Regions from separate parts of the Homo sapiens genome. Here all the other regions are linked to region 5. Evidence: fine-mapped expression QTL. A gene starts in region 5. Each other region holds a variant in brackets. All regions are shown on one strand. Distances are from middle to middle.

Region 1 (4,084 bases), 480 kb before region 5:
TTTAAAAAGTAAATAAACCTGGGCCAGGCAGGGTGGCACCCAGGCTGGAGTGTAATGGTGGGATCTTGGCTCACTGAAACCTCCAACTCCAGGCTGAAGCGATTCTTGGGCCTCAGTCTCCCCAGAGCTGGGATTACAGGCTCACATCATGCCCTGCTAATTTTTGTAGTTTTTGTAGAGATAGGGTTTCACTATGTTGCCCAGGCTGGTTTCAAACTCCTGAGCTCAGCTGATCTGCCTGCCTCAGCCTCCCAAAGTTCTGGTATTACGGGCGTGAGCCACTGCACCTGGCCACTTTTTTTTTTTTTTTTTTTTTTGAGACGGAGTGTCCCTCTGTCGCCCAGGCTGGAATGCAGTGGCGCGATCTCGCACACTACAAGCTCCACCTCCCAGGTTCACACCGTTCTCCTGCCTCAGCCTCCCGAGTAGCTGGGACTACAGGCACCCGCACCACGCCTGGCTAATTTTTTGTATTTTTTAGTAGAGACGGGGTTTCACCGTGTTAGCCAGGATGGTCACGATCTCCTGACCTCGTGATCCGCCCGCCTCGGCCTCCCAAAGTGCTGGGATCACAGGCGTGAGTCACCGTGCCCGGCCACCTGGCCACTTCTTCATTCTTGTTGGCTTTGAGTCACCAGAAAAAAAGTAAATTCTGCATCCTTATGTGGCCTATTGAATCTAAAATTACTTGTTGACTAGTTTCATCCCTTTTCTTCTAATGTATAATGTCACCTTTCTCATATATCAGTTTGCCATTATTAGCTTTATCTGTTGATGGACTCCTGCCAGGCAGGAGTGAGCAGCTCTGCCGCACGGGCTGGAGACCCCGCCCTCGGTGCTCAGCTGCCACTGCCTCGTGACAACGATGCTGAAAGAGCGAGGTTCTGAGAGGGAAATCAAAACAGATGGAGGAAGAGAAACAAGTGGAGGGAAAAGGAGAGGTGGATTGAATAGAGGCAAAAAAAAAAAAAAAAGTAAATAAACCTCTGGGACGGGAAGTATTAAACATTTTGGTCATTGTTCCCAAAGCCAAACAATATTTACAAAAAATTTTCATCTCAATCTGCACTTCTAAATTTTGCTATTTTTCAGGAGGAAGCTTTAGAAAATTACTTTGGAGATGTTAAAGCTAACTGCACAAATATTGTCAAGTAAAACTTGATAGAGTGTAATAGGGAGAGAAGATTTTTTTGTCTCTTATTATTATTATTATTTTGAGACGGAGTCTCGCTCTGTCGCCCAGGCTGGAGTGCATTGGCGAGATCTCGGCTCACTGCAAGCTCCGCCTCCTGGGTTCAGGCCATTCTCCTGCCTCAGCCTCCCGAGTAGCTGGGACTACAGGCGGCTGCAATCAAGCCCGGCTAATTTTTTGTATTTTTAGTAGAGACGGGGTTTCACCGTGTTAGCCAGGACGGTCTCGATCTCCTGACCTCGTGATCCGCCCGCCTCAGCCTTCCAAAGTGCTGGGATTACAGGCGTGAGCTACCGCGCCCGGCCTTTTTTGTCTATTATTAAAATTTGAAACAACGCCATTATAAATGAAGATGACACTACCTAGAGGTGGGAGGGCAGAGACAGACAGACACGGAGAATGGGGACTCCACCCAGTGCAGAACAAGTATGCAGCGCCCCGCTCCCCTGCACCCACAATGCCATGGAGAGGACCGGATCTCACCTACGAGAAAGCCTGTCACCCGAGGTCAGGGCTGAGGAGCACTTCTGGCCTTTCGTCTTCACCATGAGGGACGCCTGGGAGCTGAGGGACCGGGGCAGCACTGCTCGAAGCGACACTGAAGGTGCAGTTTCCACACTTCTGGGTCCTGCCCAAGGGCACGACAGCACTGTCATAGCAACAGTGCCGCAAGGGGTCGTAGAGCTTGTCCCCACTTCCCA[A/C]ATGCCGCTGGCAGAGCATGAGGTAAGCACTTATGGGGCCACTGGAGGAGACAGAGCTGGTGAGGTCAGATGGTTGGTAGATGGGTCCCAGCCGGGGGTCCCCTGGGGGCCACACTCATCCCCCAGTTTCCCAGTCCCTCCTGGGCTCACCTGGGGCTCCGTGTGAGCAGAGGAGCCTGAGGATGCAGAGAGAGGCCAAGACTGCTGTGGGAGAGGGAAGGGGAAGAGGGGGTGATCGGGAAACCACAGGCGATCCTTGGAAGCCCAGCTTGGGGAAGGGGGGCTCCGAGGGAGTTTCTGCCCTGACTGAGACTCAGGGAAGGGCTAGAAGCTGACCTTGCCCTGCCTTCCTGCAGACACACGCTGGGCCCTGGGGTGAGAGAGGTCCCAGACAGGGGATGTGTCGTGGTGGATTTGATGCCAGGTCCTTTGAGAGCCAGGAGAGGACCGATGCTCCCTCCACCCTCAATCTCTCTGTGGTCAAGGGGTGCAGGCAGGACTCTCGGAAGAAATGGGCCTAGGGTTCAGGGCAATGTGGTTGTTTCCTGGTTTTGGAGGAGCTCAGAGCTGGGGCTCAGCTGGGGTCAGGGAGGGAAGGGGCTGCGCTGAGACTGGTGTTGTGCTATGGGTGTGACTGGCACCAACATTTAGAAAAAGATGGGGCTGGGATTGGAACTAGCGCTAGGCAAGACTTTGGGGAGTAGTTTGGGGACTGAAATGGCTGTGGATGGGGCTGGCCCGGGGGCTATGGATGGGGAATTGCTGTGATGGAGCCATGTCTGAGGAGGAGGCCGGGCATGGGGACAGGGATGAGGTGTAGTTTGGGGTGGGGAGTGAGCCTCGGTGGTGGCTGAGATGGGAGATGGGCTCGGGTGGGAATGGGGTCCTGTCCTCCTTACCCAGGACATGGCCTCGGGAGCCATGGCTCCGGGGTGGCTGGAGGGGAGTGAGTGGGTGATCAGCAGGTCTCAGCAGCTCCTTGGCTCCTATACTCCTAGAGGAGCTGGTGATACCGTGGGATGCCCTGCCTTCCTGCAGAGACATGCTGGGCCCTGGATCGAGACAGGTCCCAGACAGGGTATGTGTCATGGTGGATTTGATGCCAGATCCTTTGAGAGCCAGGAGAGGACCGATGCTCCCTCCACCCTCGGTCCCTCTCTCCTCCAGAATGGAGGCTTCTTTGGCAAATAGGAAATTGCAGGACACTCCTGGGGTTGTCCTCACCCTCCCACACTCACACAGCCACAGTCTTACAGCTGACCCTGTGAGTCTAGAGCTGAGACATGCACCGAAGGTTGCTGTATGACCTGGTCCCCTTCTAGACGTGAATCAGTGCGAGGGCCCAGGACAGCAGAAGAGGTGTGAGGCCATCCTGTGACAAGGGAGCCACAGGGTGTCCAGACCCAGCGGGAGCCGAGGATTCAGGAAAATCTCCCCAGTCAGCTCCAGAGGTGCCCACAGTGTGAGCTCTAGTGTCTCCCAGGTAGAGGCCAAAGCGTCACCTGCCCGGCCCTGGGGGTGGAAGTGGAGTAGACGGCACTCCTATCTGGGCAACCGAGTAAGACCCTGTCTCTGAAGAAGTACATACATTTACTTAGACTCCTCTGTCTTTGTCATATATATACATATATGACATATATGAGATATACATATTATATATATGATATATATATGATATACATATATAAAATGTCATATATATGTGTCATATATATATGACATTTTATATATAGGAGCTCAAGACCAGCCTGGGCAACGTGGCAAAACTCCACCTCTACCAAAACATACAAAAATGAACTGGGCACAGTCGCACACACCTGTAGTCCCAACTACTCAGGAGGCTGAGGTAAGAGGATGACTTGAACCCGGGAGGCAGAGTCGAGCTGAGATCGCGCCACTACCTGCCAGCTTGGGTGACAGAGCCAGACTGTGTCTAAAAACAAACAAACACCAGAAGGCAGTGATTTTTGCCCCAAAGTGATTTAACTCTCCCTAGTCATTATACAGAACAAGAAAAATAAGAACATGAATTAGTCTGGGCGCAGTGGCTCACACCTGTAATCCCAACACTTTGGGAGGCCGAGGCGGGTGGATCACTTGAGGTCAGGAGTTCAAGACCAGCCTGGCCAACATGGTGAAACCCCGTCTCCACTAAAAATACAAAAATTAGCCAGGTGTGATCCCAGCTACT
Region 2 (4,084 bases), 55 kb after region 5:
CAATATGAAAGGCTGAAAAGACAAGAAAACCTAGCTACTTGGGAGGCTGAGGCAGGAGGATTGCTTGAACCCAGGAGATCAAGGCTGCAATGAGCTATGATTGGGCCACTGCACTCTAGCCTGGGCAGTGTAGTGAGACCCCATGTCTACAAAAACATTAAAAAAATAGATAGGTGTGGTGGCATGCAACTATAATCCTACCTACTCAGGAGGCAGGGGCAGGAGGATCACCTGAGCCCAGGAGATCGAGGCTGCAGTGAGGTACGATTGTGCCACTGAACTTCAGTCTTAACACACACACACACCAGAGTGCATTGTAAAAGTAATTATTATTTTGTGAAATTTTTGCTTAATTTATATACATATTTGCACACATACTGCATTCCAGGTAAAATATACATCTAGCTAGGGTGTGGTAGCTTGCACCCAAGTCCCTGCTAGTGAGAGGCTGAGGTGGGAAGACTCCTTGAGCCTAGGAGTTCAGACCAGCCTGGGCAACACAGCAAGTCCCCATCTCTAAATTAAATTCCTTGAGCTCAGAAATTGGAGGCTGCAGTGATCTCACCACTGCATTCCAGCCTGGGCAACAGAGCGAGACCCCATCTCTAAAAATAAAATAAATATGCTAGGCACGGTGGTTCACACCTGTAATCCCAGCACTTTGGGAGGCCAAAGCTGGCAGATCACTTGAGGTCAAGAGTTCGAGACCAGCCTGGCCAACATGGTGAAACCCCATTTCTACTATGAATACAAAAATTAGCCGAGTGTGGTGGCAGTCCCCTGAAATCCCAGCTACTCGGGAGGCTGAAGCAGGAGAATCACTTGAACCCGCGAGGCGGAGGTTGCAGTGAGCTGAGATCACACCACTGTACTCTAGTCTGGGCGACAGAACGAGACTCTGTCTCAAATAAATAAATAAATAAATAGATAAAATAAATAATCATAAAATAAATACATGAAATGTATACATCCTGTTGTGGATCAGGTGTCTCTAGTTCAAAATTACTTGAGAAACACTGGTGTGCCAAGCCTTCTGTGGTCCATGAGTCTCACCACGTCACTCCTTTCCTCACACATTTTTTTTTTTTTTTGAGAGGGAGTCTTGCTCTGTCGCCCAGGCTGGAGTACAGGGGCGCGATCTCGGCTCACTGCAAGCTCCGCCTGCCAAGTTCAAGCGATTCTCCTGCCTCAGCCTCCTGAATAGCTGGGATTACAGGCGCCCGCCACCATGCCCGGCTAATTTTATTTTTGTACTTTTAGTAGAGATGGGTTTTCACCGTGTTAGTCAGGATGGTCTCGATCTCCCAACCTCGTGATCCACCCGCCTCGGCCTCCCAAAGTGCTGGGATTACAGGCGTGAGCCACCGCGCCCGGCCTCCTCGCACATTTTTCTCTTCATTTCTCCAGAATCTTCACATTTCCACTCAGGAATCTGCTGAGTCCACCAGTCTGGGTCACGTGTCTCCCCAGGCTTCCCCCAGGCCCCTGGACTCCTAATCCCAGCCCTGGCCACCCTGAGTGGTCAAAGTCTGGGGACCACGGTTTGCCACCTCCATTGGACTGAGGGTGGGGGTTGGCTGTCTCCACCTCCACTGTGTCCCAAGCACGGCCCTGCCTGGGGCCAGGCACACAGAAGGGTCTTCAGGAATGTGGGTTGATGCTTTGCTTTCAGAAATAGGAAGGAGGACCGGGAGCACTGGCTCACCTCTGTAATCCCAGCTACTCCAGAGGCTGAGGCTGAAGGATCATTTGAACCCAGGAAGTGGGTTCAAGTGACTCCATCTCAAAAAAAAAAAAAAAAAAAGGCTGGGCTCAGTGGCTCATGCCTTAATCCCAGCACTTTGGGAGGCGGAGGTGGGTGGATCACCTAAGGTCAGGAGTTTGAGACTAGCCTGGCCAAGACGGCGAAACCTCATCTCTACTAAAAATACAAAAAATTAGCCGGATGTGGTGGTGGGCGCCTGTAATCCCAGATACTCAGGAGGCTGAGGCAGGAGAATCACTTGAACCCGGGAGGTGGAGGATGCAGTGAGCCAAGATCACACCATTGCACGCCAGCCTGGGTGACAAGAGCGAAATGTCGTCTCAAAAATAAATAAATAAAATAAAATAAAAATTAAAAAAATTAAAAAGTAAATTAAATTAAAAATAAAAAAGAGAAAGAAACAGGAAGGAAAGGAGGAGATGTCAGGAGCGTTGCACATTCCAGCCTGGGGAACTGGAGAACAGCCCTGCCCTTCTCTTCCTACCTCCCTGATTGTTTATTTAAGAGCTGGCCTGTCTGGGCGGCTCAGCCCTGTCTCCCCCAGCTGCAGGGTGGCAGGCCCCAGTGGCTCCTGGTGCAATTGTAACTCAGGGCCGGGCGTGGTGGCTCACACCTGTAATCCCAGCACTTTGGGAGGCCGAGGTGGGCAGATCACATGAGACCAGGAGTTCCAGACCAGCCTGGGCAACGTGGTGAAACGCCTTCTCTACTAAAAATACAAAAAATTAGCCGAGCGTGGTGGCAGGAGCCTGTAGTCCCAGCTACTCGGGAGGCTGAGGCAGGAGAATGGCGTGAACCTGGGAGG[A/C]GGAGCTTGCAGTGAGGCGAGATGGCTCCACTGCACTCCAGCCTGGGCGACAGAGCGAGATTCCGTCTCAAAAAAAAAAAGGTAACTCAGGTTTCTGAGCCTTGAAGCCCAAAGCTGGGGTGGCAGGCACTGCCCTCCCCACCTCCCCCAAAATCCAGCCAAGGTGGGGACTTGTTTCCCTACCACAGCAAGGTCCCAGCCTGGGAACCTACAGGTATTTCAGGGCTCAGGTGACCTGGATGGAAAGACATTCAATACTTCCTAGGAGGCAGGATAAGACAATGGTTGAGGGGGAAATGGAGGCAGAGAGATGGGCCTCCCCAGCTTCTTCTTTTTTTTTTTTTTTTTTTTTGAGACAGAGTCTCGCTGTGTCACCCAGGCTGGAGTACTGTGGCACAATCTCGGCTCACTGCAACCTCCACCTCCCGGGTTCAAGTGATTCTCCTGCCTCAGCCTCCCGAGTAGCAGGGATTACAGGCCCACGCCAGCATGCCTGGCTAATTTTTATATTTTTAGTGGAGACGGGGTTTCACCACTTTGGTCAGACTGGTCTCAAACTCCTGACCTCAAGTGATCCTCCCACCTCGGCCTCCCAAAGTAGTGAGATTACAGGTACAGGTGTAAGCCACCACGCCTGACACCCCCCTACTTCTTAGATGATCTTGGGTAACGGATTCCATCTCTGAACCTCGGGTCATCTCTGAAATAGGATGAAAGTAATACCTACCCCAGATGTGCCAGCAGCAGTAAAGAAAACCTTAGCATAGGTCTGGGCAATGCCATGAGATCAGTATATTAGGGGCTGGGGGGCCTATGACTGTGATTGTTACTTTTTGCTTTAGAGAGCCCTAGTCAGATGTGAGTCAGGCCATACAATGCAGCCTCTGAAGGGACATAGCCCTATGGGCGTGGAGGGGGAGGTTGTGAAATAGCCTTGCCCTGGGGGTCTGAGGGAACAGGGTCCTACCCTGGCGGGTCTAAGGCCTGCCCTGGGGGTCTGAAGGATCAGATATCTCAAAAGGCCAATCTACAACAGCGGTGTTATTGGGGCAGTAGCCTATCTTCTAACCTCCAGGATAATGGCTGATAATCTTTTATGTCTGCGCCTTAGCAGTACTCAGGGTCCTCTCCTCCCCGCAGCCTGATGACCTCCCATTAACTTTACAAAAGCGGTTGAGTTTTGGGCAAAGCCTATTATTTAAACTGTACCCTAAATGTCTTCCAAAGTTTGGCCCAATAGCCCAGGAATAATGAAGGGAAAGGCAAGATGAAGTATGGGTTAGCTTAGCTTACTGTTATAATTTTTCTTACTGATATAATTTTTGCAAAAGTGGGCCAGGCACGGTGGCTCACACCTGCAATCCCAACACTTGGGAGGTCGAGGCAGGTGGATCGCCTGAGATCAGGAGTTCGAGACCAGCCTGGGCAACATGGTAAAACCCTGTCTGTACTAAAAATACAAAAATTAGCTGGGTGTGGTGGTGCATGCCTGTAATCCCAGCTACTCTCAAGGC
Region 3 (4,084 bases), 23 kb before region 5:
TCACAGGACGCCCCTGACTGGACTGCGGGGCTCAGCACACCTGGCAGTACTAGGCATGGGCGTGCAGAGACTCAGAATGCGGGGTTTCTGCCCTCACCTCAGCCCCACCTGCCCGGCCCTACACCCCAGCCAGCGTGGCGGCCAGGGCAGGGCCAGGTGGGCATCATACGAAGACCTTGGCCAGGGCATCAGCGCCAGCACTGGCAATGAGGGCCTTGCTGGGGTGGCAGGCAACAGCGTGGATGGCCTCCTCGTGCTTCTTGCGGTGGGCCGTGATCTCCTGCACGCACGTTTTGTTGTCCAGGCTCCAGAGACGCAGGGAGCAGTCATGGCCTGCACATGTGTCGGGGACAGAAGGGGTGGTCACTGGGCTCCTCGCTCAGACGCAGCCCTGGAACCCCTCACCTGGCCTTGTCCAAAGGCCTCAGGGGAAGTGGGGCTCAACTCTCCTCTCTCACCCTCTGCTCATCACCTCCTGTGGCCCGCCCAAAGGAGAACCCTGGTCCCCTCCTGTCCACAGTCCATCTCATCCCCCAGCATTTCTTGAGCAGCTACTGCACACTGAGCCCCAGGGCGGCAGGGGCAGTGAACAAAACAGGCAACTCTCCCTGCCCCGCAGCACTGACGCTGCAGCTGGGCAACAGGAAGAGAAAGAAGAAAGCAACCCAGCCGGTCAGTGTGAGGACAGAATGGCCCCAGGAGGAATGCAGGGAGCCTTCCAGGCAGAAGGACAGGCGGGAAAGGTCCTGAGGCAGGAGGTGGGGGTGGCCACAAGAGCCTTAGCAGGGACTTGGGGAGAAGAGGGGAGAGGACGGCAGGCTGGGCAGGGCCCTGGCGAGGAGAAGTTTAATTTAGGGTCAAGAGGATCAGGCAGGGCAAAGGCTCAGCTCCCTCCACTGTCTAGTGGCCCCCAGAATAGAGCCCTGTCTGGGCACTGGGCTGGAGCTCACTGACCAGCCCCTCACCCACCAGAGGCTGCCAGCACAGGCCCGGAGGCAGAGCCCAGCCACAGCCTCCAACACCACGGCCTGCGCCTCTGTGCACACACACTCACTGCTGCACTCACTGCAGGCCTCACCCTTCACCCCCACAGCGACCTCCAGTCTCCTTCTCCACCCACCCACGTCACACTCCATCCCTTCTAAGCACAGCCACGTTGCTGGCCTCAATGCCCTTATCCAGAGACAACAGGGTGGGAGCACAGAAGTCCCACGGGTACCCCCAGGTAGACCTGGACTGATGTTACAGAGCTTCAATGGCCAAGTTACAAAGCGTCTGGGCATCAGGGCCCACATCTGTAAACTGGGGATCAAAGTACCAACCGCACAGGCTGCTTAGAGGCCGAATGAGACGATGCAGCTCCAGTGACCCAGAGGAGGGCCCCAGCGGACTGTGCTGCCCCCTATGGTCACCACGGTCATTCCCGCCCAGACCAGCCTCCCCCAGCCCTGGCCCCCGGGGCCCCCTGAGCACTTGCCTGGAGCCAGTGCCCAGGCCTCTTCCTCCCCTTCTCCCCAACCCTGGTGGGACTAGTGTGCTCAACTTACTTCCTGACATCAGGAATGCGCCGTTGGGGTCCACGGCTAGGCAGGTGACTGCGTCCAGGTGTGCAACCATGGAGTGCACCGGCTTACCTGAGGCGAGAAGGGCGGGTGGCAGGTTCCCCTCCCACTCTGGGCCTCGCCTGAGAGAGTGAAAGGACTGGACGAGAGACTCCCAGAGCCTCCCACAGGGACGCAAGCATCTCTGCTGCCTGCCTCTGGCCCTCCCCACCCACTACGAGCACAAGGGGCTAGGCCTCACCTGTCCGATTGTCCAGGAAGCGGATGCCCCTGTCGTCGTGGGCGGTGATGGTGAGAGGCTGGTTTGGATGACTCACCACTTGGTTGATCTGGGTTGGACCTGAAGGAAAACGCAGGAAGAGGGAAGGATGTCAAGCAGAAAATCAGGAAGACCAGAACAGAGGCACAAGCGCAGCGTGACAGCCCCTACACCAGCCTCTGCCTGGATGTCGAGGGGGGCTGGGCGAGGGCACTCCGGTCCCCGACCGCAGCGCTGGTTCTGCACAAGCAGCCCCTGGGCCCTGTTTTGGGG[C/CT]GGGGGAAGAGGAATAACAAACATGAACACATTCCGCCACTCTACCAAGAGGGCCCGACGGGGCGGCCCTGACGCGCTCTCCCCACTCAGCCCCGCCAGTGCCCTGGCTGTGAGGGCCGGGGGCCCTCCACTGGGACCCAACTTCCTTCCTGCTCAGGGCCTGAGGGTGCAGGGGAGTCATCTGAGCTGACTGACAAGGGGTCGCCAAAGCCCCAGGAGGAAGTGGGGCCCAGAAGACACTGAGACCAATTCCATGAGCTGATGTCAGCCCCCTTACCGCTGCTGCCCCGGGACTCCAGCGTGAGGAGGGCACTGCCAACCTCCATGTCATACAAGACGGTGTCGCCAGAGCGGAAGGAGGCCACGATGTGGGCAGGCTCGGTGCTGGTGAAGGCCACTGAGGTGGGGACCCCGTGCTCTGAGGGCACAGGGAAGAGAAGGCTGCTGAATGGACCCTCAGACCCAGCCCTGCCCCAGGGTGGGGGACAGTGGGTGGGAGGCCTGGGGCCTCAGCAGGAACCACTCTGATAGCCTCCAGATCCCGCACAGCTCCAGGGTGAGGCACCGGGGCCCCCACTCACCGCTGGCTGTGGGGAAGGTGCAGAGGCAGGCCGGGCTGCTGCTGCTGGGGTCCCAGATGCGGACGGTGCCATCAGCAGAACAGGAGGCCAGGCGCTGGGAGGTGGGACTGAAGGCCAGGCCCCACACGGCGTCCCCGTGGCCCTCCAGGACGTGGCTCAGCACGCTTGGGTCTGCACCCACCGCAGGGAGGAAATGGGCTGTGTCAGGGCTGCCAGCTCCTCCCTGGACAGCCCAGAGCCCCAGCTCTGCCAAGCCCCAGGCAGCTGGGCTCCAATCACCCACGCACCCACTTCACACCTGGTGCCCCTCGGAACTGTCCACTGCCAGGACAGCCCGGCAGCTGCTCACACTGCCCACTAGCTCTCCAAGGAAGGTTCTAGGGCTCCAGAAGGCAGGGATTTCCCTCTATTCACAGCTGTCTCCCCAAGCAGGGCCCAGAAACTGGGAGCTCAATACAGAATTTTTCGGGCTCCATTAAGGAAGAAGGAACAGCATGGTTCTGTGGCCCCAGGAGCGGCACGCAGCCTGTGCTGGACAAGGGTTGGTCCCAACCCTGGCCCGAGCAGTCTTTTCAGCCCATGGCCAAGTGCATGGGCTTTGCCTGGTCTCTCCAAAGCCCCCTGGTCATTCAGAGGTCCAATCACTGCTTCCCTGGTTGCTGGAGTCCACACCAGCAGCTCTGGCCTGCTGACACCGAAAGTGTGGTGGCTAATGTAGCTGGGACCGATCCTGACCTTGTGCAGGTGAGCCTGTTCTCTAAAGTCTGTCCTCCCCTTGAGAGGAGACAAAGACCTCTGAACTCTGCCCAGACAAGGTGGAGCACAGGGCCAGGTGCATGATCAAGGAGGCAGAGCCGGGCGCAGTGGCTCATGCCTGCAATCCCAGCACTTTGGGAGGCCAAGGTGGGTGGATCACCTGAGGTCCGGAGTTCAAGACCAGCCTGGTCAACGTGGTGCAACCCTGTCTCTACCAAAAATACAAAAAATAGCTGGATATGGTGGTGCGTGCCTGTAATCCCAGCTACTCGGGAGGCTGAGGCACGAGAATCACTTGAACCCAGGAGGTAGAGGTTGCAGTAAGCCAAGATCACGCCACTGCATTCCAGCCTGGGTGACAGAGTGAGACTCTTTGTCTCAAAAAAAAAAAAAAAAAAAAAAAAAAGGCAGAGAACAGGGGGACAGATGTTGAACAGAAGTGACAGTCTGGTCACTTCCCTACTTAGGTCTTAGATGCTCCAAAGAGAAAGCCCCAACGCGCTCCAGCCTGGCCCAGCTAACTCCACCTTCTCTGCTTTCTCTGGACATGCCCTCCCCTCAACCACGCAGAGACCCTGGCGGATCCCCACACACAGAGTACACGGCATGGCAGAGCAGAGGCTGCCAGGGCCAGCCACGCCTGTGCATGGGCT
Region 4 (4,084 bases), 31 kb before region 5:
ATGCCGGAGCAGCAGGGAAGGCAGCCATGAAAAAGGCAGCTGCCCCCACCCTCAAGAGGGACCAAGGGCCATAGACTGCTCTAAGGTGCTGAGAGCATGCCCATCTATACTACTGGAATAGTGAGTGGATGAACTGGCTTCTGGCTGTGTCTTAGAAAATCACCTGGGGGCTTTTAAAAATACTGATGTGCAGATTCCATCTCACTTTGCAGAGATTCTGATTTAATTTAGCATTTTCGTGGCAGGAGCCATGGACATCATAACTTTTTTTTTTCTTTTTCTACTTTTTTTCTTTTTTAGAGATAGGGTCTCTCTCTGTTGCCCAGGCTGGAGTGCAGTGACATGATCGTGGCTCACTGCAGCCTCAAACTCCTAAGCTCAAGAAATCCTCCCACCTCAGCCTCCCAAGTAGCTGAGACTACAGACGTGTGCCACCTCGCCCGGTTAACTTTTTTTTTTTTTTTTTTTTTTAAGAGATGGGGTCTCCTTATGTTGCCCAGGCTGGTCTCAAACTCCTGGGCTCCAGCGATCCTCCCACCTCAGCCTCCCAAACTGCTGGGATTACAGGTGTGAGCCACTGCAGCTGGCCCATTTTTTACCTTTATATTTAAGCATAACACAGTCAGTTACAGATCCAACTCCTTCTTCTCCTCTTTTCCCCCTTCTAACTACTGCACTTGACTAGTTTTATAAATAAATAAGTATAACATATGTTCAGGAAAGGCCGCACATCACAAGTGCACAGCTCAATGAATTTTCAAACTGTACAAAGCGTGTCACTAGCATCCTAATCCATAAATGAAAGTTTAGACCAGTCCCTAAAGAGCGCCTTCATGACCCCACTCTGTAACCATCTTCCAGAAGCCCCCAACTCTCCTTATTTTTTTTTTTCAGAGGGAGAGAAAGGGGTAGAGATGGAATCTCACTATGTTGCCCAGGCTGATCTCGAACTCCTGGGCTCAAGCGATCCCCCCAGCTCCAGCTCAGCCTCCCAAAGTGCTGGGATCACAGGCGTGAGCCACTACACCCGGCCTCTCCTGACTTCTAACTCCCCCTACCCTCTCCTCCCCCAGATGCCCCGCCCCCACCCGAGGCCCCGCCCCCAGGCCGGCCACCACCTCTCACCCGACAGCACCACCTCCACCAGGTCGCCCTCCTGGATGTCTCCGGACGAGCGCACCAGCTGCAGGAGGTTGGCCGACGTGGGGTCATGTTTGAAAAGCAGGATCTTGTCGTAAAGGCCGTAGAAGCCACACTCAGGGAACTGAGGGGCGGGAGAGGGATGTGGCGACGGAAAAGCTCAGAGCCGCCTTCAGCAGCGGGCGGACTGTGACCCTCCCAGGGCAGGGCCGGCTGTTTCCCCCGGAAACGCAGAGACCCCGCAGGCCCTCGCTTCCTGCCTGCCCCCTCCCAACCCCAGCGCGAGCCGGGCAGGATGCCAGCGCCCCAATTGTACGGGGAGGGGGCGCCGGCGTGGGTTTGGTGGCTGGAAGGGGGAGCTGGGGTGGGAGGGAGAGTGGCTCCGGGAGCGTGGACACCTCGAATTTTCCGGAACCTGGCGGAGGTGGGAGGGGATGCTGAATGAACACTCCCTCCCCTGTGCCTCCTCCCCAGGCTCACACACCCGCCCCCCAGCTTCCTTCCTGGATCTGTCTATTGTTGTCCCAGTTACCTGGCTCCAGGCCCAGCACTGGGGTGGGGCGAGCTGGAAGGAGGACTTTTCGGGGCTCCTGGGAAAGTGGGGGGGGGGGCCGGGGGACTTGGACTCGAGGGCGCTGGAGATAAGGAGGGCGCCTGCCACCCAATGCTCAAAGGACCCAGGTGTCTGGGTCCTCAGCTTTGGGGGCCTGGGGGCAGGAAATGAAACCTAGTAGAACAGAAAGTGAAACTGCCCCGGTGGGGCCTCGGGAAGGAAGGTAAGCGGCCCTAACACACCTGGACCTGGCAGAAAAATAAAACTGGGGTGAAGCCTGAGCGGGGCAGGCTGGGGACTTGAGCACTGGACAAAGAAGTTCACCCAAGGGACAATCTGCCCCCGTACCCCCACTGCCACCAGCTTCCCATGAAGTGGGCTGAGTTGGGGTGGTGAGCTGGGCCTGCGGGATT[G/T]AGGCATTTGGTGGGCAAAACCCTATCAGTTCTCACTGCTAAGAGAGAGTCCACAGAAGACCAGGACTGCCTTGGCCCTGACCCCTTGGGAAGTTTTTCTCTAAGCTTCAGTTTCCTTGTCTGTAGAATGGGGGAGCTGGCCCAGTTCCCCACGTTTCTCTGATGCCCAAAGGATTCATTTCCAGGAGTCTGAAAAGATTCTGGAATTTGGATATTTTGGGACTCCAACATGCTCACATTATAGAATTATACATTCTAGATTCCTACCTGGTATCACTATACATTTTAGGATTTCAATAACCTAAATAAGCGGTAATCTAATATTTTAATATTCTAGGAGTCTGACAAGCTAGGACTGTGCTCTTTGAATTCTTTAGCATTCAAGGACCTCATCCATCCAGCATTCTAAAATTCTAACATTTTAACTTTCTAGGATTCAACAATCTAGGAATCTAATATTCCAGCATTTTAATGTTTTACTATTTCACAAACCTAGAATTCTAATATTTGAACACGAACATGGGGGCAATTTAATTGCCTAGGATGCATATTCCAACAAGTTATGATTCTAATATTCTAACATTTCTACAGTCCAGTACTCCAACACAGAAGCCCACTATTCTTTTAACATTTCACGGTTTAGACGTGGAGTTCCACCTGGTTTCCTCTTGCCATAACACCCAGCTGCCCACCCTGGGGACCCTGGTGTCCAAAATTAAGAGTAGGCTAACAGCACTGTGACTAGGAAAGGGAATAGAGTCCCCAGGGTCTGTAGGAGTGCCTGCCCCTCCACACATATCTCAGGCTTAGGGGAGGGCAGAATTGGGCTCCGAGACCTCACTTGCCCCTGGCAGCTAACTCAAGCACCTGCACCCACACATGTCACCGGATCACCATGGCCAGCCCGGGTTCAATTTCTCCTGTTTCCACCAAATGGGAGGCCCGGGATGGGCCTGGACGTGGAGGTCCGCCGACATCTGCTGCCCCTTCCTCCCCTCTCTACACCTGGCTGGCCCCTCCCTTCCTCCCTGTTTGCTGCAGAAAACAACGACATGCAGGGACATGAAATTTGGGGAGGCCTCTGGGGCACCCCACCCCTGCCCAGTCCTCTCTCAAAGGGATGGTGGGGAGAGGGGCAATGGAGGGGGGCAATGCCCCCTATCCCTCCATCACCCAAAGCTCAGGTCTCCTTCCTCCCTCTTCCGCACACCAGGCCCCAGACCCCTCTGCCAGCGCCCCCTCCTTCAACCTCTCCCCGAGCTGGATCCAGGGAGCCTGCGCCCTCACCTTCTGGTCCACGATGGAACAGGCCAGCTGCTTCACATGAGCCAGCTCGGAGGCGGCGGGCAACAGCACGAACTCGCGGGTCAGCCCGATCTGGATGTGAAAGGAGACCCCGGAACCCGGGGCCGGGATCTGGGGCAGTAGCGGTGGCGGCGACTGCAGCTCTAGGCCGCCGGGGGGCGGAGGAGACCCCGGCCCGGGAGAGCCAGGGAGCCCGGCGGGATAAGAGGGGGCGGTGGCCATGGGGGGAGGCCGGGGACCGGCCGCCTGGAGCCCACCCGGGACCCGGCCGGGGGGCCCCGGGGGACCCTGGGTTCTAGATCCGCGGGATCTCGTGAGCAGGTGGTGGGAGAGCGGGGATCCGAGAAAAGATCTGGCAGGCGGAGGGGACCTGAGGATGGCGGGGTCCTGGGAAGGAGAGAAAGGCACTATAGTGGGTCAGAGGCCCGGAATCCAGGGCTCCCAGAAGATCAGAAAGGAGAAAAGTAGTGGGTTGGAGGTCCCAGCGATTGAGATTCCAAGAAGCCTGAGAGGAAATCTAGTAGGTCGGGGTCACAGGGATCAGGAGAGCCCGCGATTCAAAGGCCCCTTCCCTAGAGGAGGGATTGAGAAGGGGGCAGAGGGAATCCCAGGATCCAGTGCTCCAAGAAGAGGATCCCACTCAGAAGGCGGCCCGGGGGAATTCACCTTGGGG
Region 5 (4,069 bases):
GGTCGGGCATGGTGGCTTATGCCTGTAATCCCAGCACTTTGGGAGGCCGAGGCAGGTGGATCTCTTGAGGCCAGGAGTTCGAAACCAGCCTGACCAACGTGGCAAAACCCCATCTCTACTAAAAATACAAAAATCAGCCAGGCGTGGTGGTGGTGCACACCTGTAATCCCAGCTACTTGCGAGGCTGAGGCAGGAGAATCGCTTGAACCTGGGAGGCAGTGGTTGCAATGAGCCAAGATCATGCCACTGCACTCCACCCTGGGTGACAGAGTGAGACTCTGTCTCAAAAAAATAAAAATAAAAATAAATAAATAAATAAATAAATAAACAAAAGGTCCACCACAGACCAGCCCTTCTGCTCATCTGCTGGGATCCTAGATAAATCACCCTCTCAAAACCTCCATTTCCTCTCCTGATTTTTTTTAAAGGTAGGGGGAATATCCTTTATCCTCCCAGAATGCTGCAAGAATTAAATGACAGCTCGTATCTACAGTACTTGATACAGCGCCCCAGACATGGTATGTGCTCACTAAATTGCAGCTGGTACCGTTATTGCTGAGTGAGGTAATGACACTGCCTCTGCCTACATCACAGGGCATTGTGAAGATCTGATGAGATGTATGCTGGGAAAGAGCTTCGGAAGTAGAGAGTGGGACAGAAGTGAGAGCAGTTACATAAGGATTCTGCTCCCATCCCAGCCCCAAGCCTCAGCCACCACAAGTGAGGGCAGGGGGAGAGTTACTGGAGGGTCTTTACTCATCCTATGAACAAAATGCTTTTTTTTGAGACAGGATCTCACTCTTTTGCCCAGGCTGGAGTGCAGTGGTGCAATCATGGCTCACCGCAGCCTCAACCTCCGGGGTTTAAGCAATCCTCCCACCTCAGCCTCCTGAGTAGCTGGGACTACAGGCGCATGTCACCACACCCGGCTAATTTTTGTACTTTTTTGTAGAGATGAGGTCTTGCTATGTTGGCCAGGCTGGCCTCGAACTCCTGGGCTCAAGGGATTCTCCCACCTCAACCTCCCCAAGTGTTGGGATTACAGGCGTGAGCCACCGCACCCCATCCCTACCGACACAATTCTCATCAGCTATTTATTTGGGTACCAGCTTCCTACTAGATAGCAAACGGCAAATCGGAAGGGGAAAGGTGGGCTGCTACAAGCAGGTAATGACAATTTCTGCTAATAATAACCCAGTCCAAGAATCTTCAGACTTCCAGCGGGCCATTCCTGATCCCTTCAAATCCGGACATCTCCATGGTCCTCCAGTCACTGCCAATGGACCTGACGCTCCACGAGGTCACAAACCCTAGCCCAACTCCTCAGACTCTTCCATTCAACATCCCTGTCCCAAGCTACCCCAAAAACCACGGGGTCTTTTCCCAAGACTTCCACAAACATATCCCCTTCCCCCCAACCCCAGTCTACCCCCGTTCCGAGATGCCTCCTCATGTTGCCTTCGGGCTCTACAAAATTCTCCCCCCTAAAGCATCACCCCAGGGTAACCCCTAACTCGTCCTCATTGGCACCATCCCAGGACCCTCACCTCCATACTGGACATGCCCAACACCCCACACTCCAGTTCAGGGCTCTCTACCTACATCCTACAACACACGTGCCATCTCAGTGCCATCGCGCCCACTCCTGCACACCCCCAAAGTGGAACTTCCACTCTTAAGCTCTCCCATCCAGGCTCCTAGGGTACATTCCCTGCTCTGTCCACACTTCCACTCCAAAGAACCCTTCCCTGCACTGTGCAGCCACACATGCCCGGGATCCCCAAAGTTTCTCCTCAGAGGGGAAGGCACACACCTTCATCCTGGACCCCTTGAAACCCTCCTCCCACCCCTCGGGTCCTTACACAGCCCTCCTTCCGTGCCCACCGTCCAGTCGCCCCGAAACACACCGATCCCAGGTTCCCGACTTCCTCTCCCTAAATCCTCCCGGTTCCCCATCTGGACCCGCTCTTTCCCAGCGGGTCCCAAGTTCCCCCCTTGGACGCTCCCACCTCCAACCTGCACCTGGCTAGGGCCATGGTCGGGGTCGGGGTCGGGAGTCCCTCGGCGCCCGGCAAGCTTCTGCTTACTCCCACAGGAGACCACTCAGGTCTCCCAGACCCCTCCAGCTCCTCTCCACACCCTTTCCCGAGTTCTCTTAGCCTCCCCTCCAGGGCTCGAGTCGCCTCTCTCAGGAGCCCCGCGGCCAGCGTGCTCAGTCCCAGTCCCAGTCCCACTCCCAGCTGGTTGTGGTCCCTCCGCCCCTTTCTCTCGGCCGGTCCCGGTGATCCCTCCCACCCCCGGTCCCTCCACTCCCACCTCGGGCCGTCCCGGTCCCGTCCCACCCCGGAGTGCCCTCAGGACACCCCTCGGACGGCCCCTCACTCGCCCTCCGGGACCGTCGCGGTCCCCTCCCGCCCCCCCGCCGGCCGTCCCGGCGGCCATTGCTCCAAGATGGCGGCGGCGGCGGCAGCGGGTGAGGCCGGGCCGGGCCGGGCCGGGTTGGGGGTCGGGGGTCCCGGGACAGCGCTCACCTGTAACTCGGCGCGCTCGGCCTCCCAGCGGGCTTTCTCGGCTTCGAAGCGCGCCCACTCGTGCTGGATAAAGTGCAGGATCCCCGGCAGGCTCAGGGGCTCCGGGCCCGCCGTGGGCCCGGGGCTGCCTCCGCCGCCGCCTCCCTTACCTGCCGGGCCCGGCCCGGGGGCAGGGGCGGAGACCGGGGCCGCCCCAGTGGGGCCAGGGCCCGCGCCTGAGCCGAGCGGACGGCAGGAGGAGGCGGCGGCGGCGACCGCGGCGGCCGCTCGCTCCTCCATCATGGAGGCCCCGGGGCCGGCCTGCGCGCCCGCTGTGCCTCGCGCGCCTGCGCGGCCGCGCCAACACCCCCCCCCCTCCCCCGCCGCAACCACCGCGCGCGCGCCCGGCGGGGGACAGTAGGAAGGGGGGCCGGCGGCGAGCGCGAGCCTCGCCCACCCGGGTCTACACCGAAGGGTAGCGTGCCCGCGCGGGGGCCGGCGGGTGGGAGATCGCGCCCCGAGGAGGGCGAGGGAGACCCAGGCCCCGCGCGACGGTCCCCCTCGCTGGAGTGAGACTGAGGAAGGGGCCGCTTTCTGCCCCCCTCCTCCCACTTCGCCCCAGAGAAAGAGCCTTACCCCTTCCACACCCAAACACCACTCTCCTGGACAATTACTTTTACTCTGAGAGAAAGGGCGACCAGCAGTGGCCCCATCCTCTCTGATTGCCGGCCAGGTTGGTTGTCATGGTAACCCTTCCCCAGCGGTGGGGGCGAGGTGGTGGGGAGCAGCCTTCCCCTCGCTTCCACCTTTGTGGTTATGGAGCCCCAAACCTCTTAGGACTCTGCACCAGGAGAAGGTTGCTAAGGTAACCTAAGTGTCCGTGGTGGTCCTTCTGCTCCTATCCTCATTGATTACTATGGCAACCTCCCCCCCACCTAGCATTCAGGTAGAAAGGACCCCAGCCCCAAGGACACTGATCTCTAAGAGAAGCACCTCTTCCCCAGCCCCTCCCCCATAGCCACCTAGTTGGCATTACCATGGTAACCGTCTTCCCCTTCCCATCGTGGGAGGCCCATGCACCAAACTAACCAGGTGTTTTTATTTAGAGGAGATGCTCTGCTGAGGGGCAGTTGCTATGGTTACAGGGCCTGGACCTTCCTCCGGAAGGTGAGAAACAGGCAAGTTCAAGGCCTGGTTACTATGATAATAGAGCAGCCCCCTTCGAGTGACCCTAGGAACCAAGCCCAACAAAGGAGGGGATTTTTTTTTTTTTTTTTTTTTTTGAGACAGAGTGTAACTCTTGTTGCCCAGGCTGGGATGCAATGGCCCAATCTCGGCTCACCACAACCTCCGCCTCCCCGGTTCAAGCCGTTCTCCTGCCTCACCCTCCCAAGTAGCTGGGATTACAGGCATGCGCCACCACGCCCGGCTAATTTTTTTTTTATTTTTAGTAAAGACGGGGTTTCTCCATGTTGGTCACGCTGGTCTTGAACTCCCGACCTCAGGTGATCTGCCTCAGGCCCGCCTCGGCCTCCCAAAGTGCTGGGATTACAGGTGTG
Region 6 (4,084 bases), 44 kb before region 5:
TCCTAGGCACCTGGGAGGGCAGAAAATATCCTTGCCCTCATGCACCTGAGCTCACATTCCAGTGGAGCTGACTAAGTATGAACTCCGTGTATAGTTTAAAAATGTGTAGGCTGGGGGCACAGTGGCACACACCTGTAATCCCAGAACTTTGGGAGGCTGAGGTGGGAGGATTGCTTGAGCGCAGAAGTTCAAGACCACCCTGGGCAACATAGCAAGACCCCCTATCTTAAAAAAAAAAAAAAAAAAAAAAGAAGAGGAATATAGGTCAGGCGCGGTGGCTCATGCCTGTAATCCCAGCACTTTGGGAGGCCGAGGCAGGTGGATTACCTGAGGTTGGGAGTTCAAGACCAGCCTGACCAACATGGCAAAACCCTGTCTCTACTAAAAATACAAAAAAAGTAGCTGGGCCTGGGCGGGTGCCTGTAGTCCCAGCTACTTGGGAGGCTGAGGCAGGAGAATCGCTTGAACCCAGGAGACAGAGGTTGCAATGAACTGAAATTGCATCACTGCACTCCAGCCTGGGCAACAAGAGCGAAACGCCGTCTAAAATTAGCCAGGGATAGCAGTGCATCCCTGTAGTCCCAGATACTCGGGAGGCTGAGGCAGGAGGATCACCTGAGCCCAGGAGTTTGAGGTTACAGTGAGCCACAATCACACCACTGCACTCCAGTGGGCAACAAAGCAAGACCCTTTGGGAGGCTGAGGCGGGTGGATCACTTGAGCTCAGGAGTCAGGAGTTCAAGACCAGCCTGGGCAACATAGGGTAGACCCTGTCTCTACAGAAATACAAAAATTAGCTGGGTGTGGTGGACGAGCCTGTGGTCCCAGCTACTCGAGAGGCTAAGGTGGCAGGATCGCTTGAGCCCAGGTGGTCGAGGCTGCAGTGAGTCAAGACTGCACCACTGCACCAGCCTGGGCGACAGACCGAGACCCTGTCTCAAACAAAAAATTATTTAAAAAAAATTGTAGTGCTTTAAAAGGTTTGCCTCAGGAACTGGGAAAATTTATAAATATGAGGTGATGTCAGCCCATTGTAGAGAAAAAGAAATTGAGGTTCACTGTGCAGGAGGGTCTTCCCCCAGGGTCTCTTGGAGGGTTCTGTGTATACCTCTGGGCCTTGCCTCCCTCGCCTTCCTCCTCCTCACTGGCGTGGAGCGCATTCTCTGAGTGGGAGCCAGGGATGACACCGGAGTCCTCTGACTCATCCATGAGGGCGCTCTTGTCAGCCTCGCTGAAATCGGTGGCCTCCTCCATCGGCACATCTGTGGGGACGGAGGCATCAGAGGGGTCTCCACCCAGTCCTGCCCCTTCCCCTTTCTCCCCAGCATCCCCCCAGCCTCTCACCTCCATTGATAAGGGCCTCCCCCAGGCAGTCATTAGGGACGCGGGTGGCGCAGCGTTTGTGACAGTTAAACTTGCAGTCTGGTAGGACAGGGAACAAGGGAACGGGTGAGAAGGGGAAGAGAGGTTACCTGGAAGGCTTGAACCTTGACCCTAAGCCTCAGGCTCAAAAGAGTCTACTCTTGCTGTCTGGGTAAGAACACTGGCTGCTGCTGCCCTGGTCATTTTCCCACTTTCAGCCACAGTTTTCCCAACCATCGGGGGGGTCTTGATTAAGTAGGAGGGCTAGACTCAAAATCCCGACGACTGCTGGGTGCAGTGGCTCCCGCCTGTAATCTCGGTATTTTGGGAGGCCGGGGAGAGCAGATCATTTGAGGTCAGGAGTTCGAAACCAGCCTGCCCTACATGGTAAAACCTCGTCTCTACTAAAAATACAAAAATTAGCTGGGCGTGGGACTACAGGCGCCCACTACCACGCCCAGCTGATTTTTTTGTGTTTTTAGTAGAGACGGGGTTTCGCCATGTTGGTCAGGCTGGTTTCGCGCTCCTGACCTCAGATGATCCACCTGCCTTGGCCTCCTAAAAGTGCTGGGATTACAGGCGTGAGCCACCGCGCCCGACTTGTGTGTGTGTGTGTGTGTGTGTGTTATTGGTTCTAATGTGCTGTGACTCCAGACTCTGAACACCCTAGGGCTGGGTTCCTCAACCCGTGACACTAACACAGTGCCCAGGATAATTCCTTGTTTTAGGGCACTTGCTCTGTGTATTGTAGGATGTTTAGCTGCATCTCTGACTTCTACCTACTGGATGCCAGTAGCACTATCCCAGCGTACCAAACAAAACCATCTCCAACCCTTGCCAAACATCCCCTAGGAGCAAAACGGCCCCTGGTCGAGAACCATTGCTGTAGAGTTCAGTGTTTCCACGGTTCTAGGGACACTATACATCGAAGATTCTAGAGTTTACTAAAAACCTATTTTATGAAGGTTCTATGATTCTGTTTTTTGTTTTTT[T/G]TTTTTTTTTTTAAGAAACAGTCTGGCTGTCACCCAGACTAGAGTGTGCAATGGCACCATCTCGGCTCACTGCAACCTCTGCCTCCCAGGCTCAAGCGATCTTCCCACCTCAGCCTCCTGAGTAGCTGAAACTACAGGCACGCACTACCATGCCTGGCTAATTTTTCGTATTTTTTGTAGAGATGGGGTCTTTCCATGTTGTACAAGCTGGTCTTGAACTCCTGGGCTCAAGCAATCCACCCACCTAAGCCTCCCAAAGTGCTGGGATTACAGGTGTGAGCTACTGCCCCTGACCTGATTCCGTATTTCTAAGGCTTCAGAGTTTGATGTCCAAGTTTCTAGAACTCTAGACATCTATGAGTCAACACTTCTAAGACTCTTTAATGTCCAAGATTTTAGGGTGTTATATATCTAAACTCTAAAATTTGACAGTTCTAGGGTTCTACAATTCTAGGCTTCTCTACCTCCAGAATCTGCAGATTCCAAGGTTCTAGGATTCTATACATACAAGATTCTAGAATTTGATGTTTCTATGCTTCTTTAGCTCTAGGCTTCTAAGATTCTAGAATTTGATTGTTCCAGTAAATTCTTGAATTGGATGTTTCTAAGTTTATGTGGATCTAGGCTTCTGAGGTTCTAGAATTTTTTTTTTTCTTTTTTTGAGACAAGTTCTTGCTCTGTCACCCAGGCTGGAATGCAGTGGCACAATCATGGCTCACTGCAGCCTCAACCTCCTGGGCTCAAGCAATCCTCCCTCCTCAGAGTCCCAAGTAGCTGGAACCACAGATGCATGCTGCCATGCCTGGCTAATTTTTAATTTTTTTTGTAGAGACAGGGTTTCACCATGTTGCCCAGGCTGGTCTTAAACTCCTAGGCTCAAGTGATCCACCTACCTTGGCCTCCCAAAGTGCTGAGATTACATGCATGAGCCACCACACCTGGCTGGATTCTAGAATTTGATTGTTCAAAGTTCTGGGAGTCTAGAATTTCCAGGATTCTAGGTTACGATGGTTTCAAGCTTATATGATTCTAGACGTCTAAGACTCTCAAATTTGATGTGCCTATGTTTCTATTACCCTCAAATCCCATGGTTCCAAAATTCTCATGCTCTGAGAGTCTATAACTTGGGAGATCTAAGATGTGTAATCTAAAGTTCTGTTGTTATTTTAGCTGAATTCTATCATTCGGAATTCTTGAATGCTATGGTTCTGATTCTAGAATTCTCAGGTTCTACAGTTTTAGAATTCCATGCTAAGCACGTTATGAATCTAGGATTCCAAGGTTCTAAAGACTGAGGTTCAGCTGGGCGCGGTGGCTCACACCTGTAATCCCAGCACTTTGGGAGGCCGAGGTAGGAGGATTGCTTGAGCCCAGGAGTTCAAGACCAGCCTGAACAATATAGTGATACCTTCTCTCTACAAATGATTTAAAAATTAGCTGGGTGTGGCCAGGCGCGGTGGCTCACGCCTGTAATCCCGGCATTTTGGGAGGTCGAGGCAGGTGGATCACAAGGTCAGGAGATCGAGACCATCCTAGCTAACATGGTGAAACCCCGTCTCTACTAAAAATACAAAAAAATTAGCCAGGCATGGTGGCGGGCGCCTGTAGTCCCAGCTACTCAGGAGGCTGAGGCAGGAGAATGTCCTGATCCCAGGAGGCAGAGTTTGCAGTGAGCCGAGATCACACCACTGCACTCCAGCCTGGGCGACAGAGTGAGACTCCGTCTCAAA

Evidence for each region. PIP is the estimated chance that this variant, and not a neighbour inherited with it, causes the effect.
Region 1: its variant is fine-mapped to the expression of FKRP in sigmoid colon (GTEx, PIP 0.95).
Region 2: its variant is fine-mapped to the expression of FKRP in whole blood (TOPMed, PIP 0.98).
Region 3: its variant is fine-mapped to the expression of FKRP in kidney cortex (GTEx, PIP 0.95).
Region 4: its variant is fine-mapped to the expression of FKRP in whole blood (INTERVAL, PIP above 0.99). The same link has a PIP of 0.9 or more in sigmoid colon, subcutaneous fat, tibial nerve and visceral fat.
Region 6: its variant is fine-mapped to the expression of FKRP in whole blood (TOPMed, PIP 0.99).

The regions. Positions count from the first base shown.
Region 1 is chr19:46,258,758-46,262,841 of GRCh38, forward strand. It overlaps the pseudogene IGFL1P2. Among named protein-coding and RNA genes, the nearest start is that of IGFL1, 31 kb to the left of the region's middle. RefSeq lists enhancers at 1,885-2,384, 3,721-4,084. The variant A/C (reference allele first, on the strand shown) is at 1,894.
Region 2 is chr19:46,798,839-46,802,922 of GRCh38, forward strand. No RefSeq gene overlaps it. Among named protein-coding and RNA genes, the nearest start is that of SLC1A5, 12 kb to the left of the region's middle. The variant A/C (reference allele first, on the strand shown) is at 2,571.
Region 3 is chr19:46,720,439-46,724,522 of GRCh38, forward strand. STRN4 (striatin 4) reads right to left here. Exons shown (of 18, transcript NM_013403.3): 13 at 2,676-2,846; 14 at 2,372-2,512; 15 at 1,804-1,902; 16 at 1,548-1,634; 17 at 98-333. The coding sequence ends at 164. Among named protein-coding and RNA genes, the nearest start is that of PRKD2, 5.4 kb to the left of the region's middle. The variant C/CT (reference allele first, on the strand shown) is at 2,095.
Region 4 is chr19:46,712,738-46,716,821 of GRCh38, forward strand. PRKD2 (protein kinase D2) reads right to left here. Exons shown (of 18, transcript NM_016457.5): 1 at 3,394-4,084; 2 at 1,126-1,264. The coding sequence starts at 3,633. It overlaps LOC107987269, which reads right to left. Exons shown (of 4, transcript XM_017027568.2): 4 at 3,797-4,084. The coding sequence ends at 4,074. Among named protein-coding and RNA genes, the nearest start is that of PRKD2, 2.3 kb to the right of the region's middle. RefSeq lists a silencer at 1,392-1,621 and an enhancer at 1,812-2,111. The variant G/T (reference allele first, on the strand shown) is at 2,107.
Region 5 is chr19:46,743,618-46,747,686 of GRCh38, forward strand. FKRP (fukutin related protein) reads left to right here and starts at 2,440. Exons shown (of 4, transcript NM_024301.5): 1 at 2,440-2,473. STRN4 (striatin 4) reads right to left here and starts at 2,833. Exons shown (of 18, transcript NM_013403.3): 1 at 2,532-2,833. The coding sequence starts at 2,813. RefSeq lists silencers at 2,379-2,608, 2,819-2,868, 2,879-3,028, 3,069-3,168, 3,209-3,258.
Region 6 is chr19:46,699,691-46,703,774 of GRCh38, forward strand. PRKD2 (protein kinase D2) reads right to left here. Exons shown (of 18, transcript NM_016457.5): 6 at 1,345-1,422; 7 at 1,109-1,262. Among named protein-coding and RNA genes, the nearest start is that of MIR320E, 7.6 kb to the right of the region's middle. The variant T/G (reference allele first, on the strand shown) is at 2,355.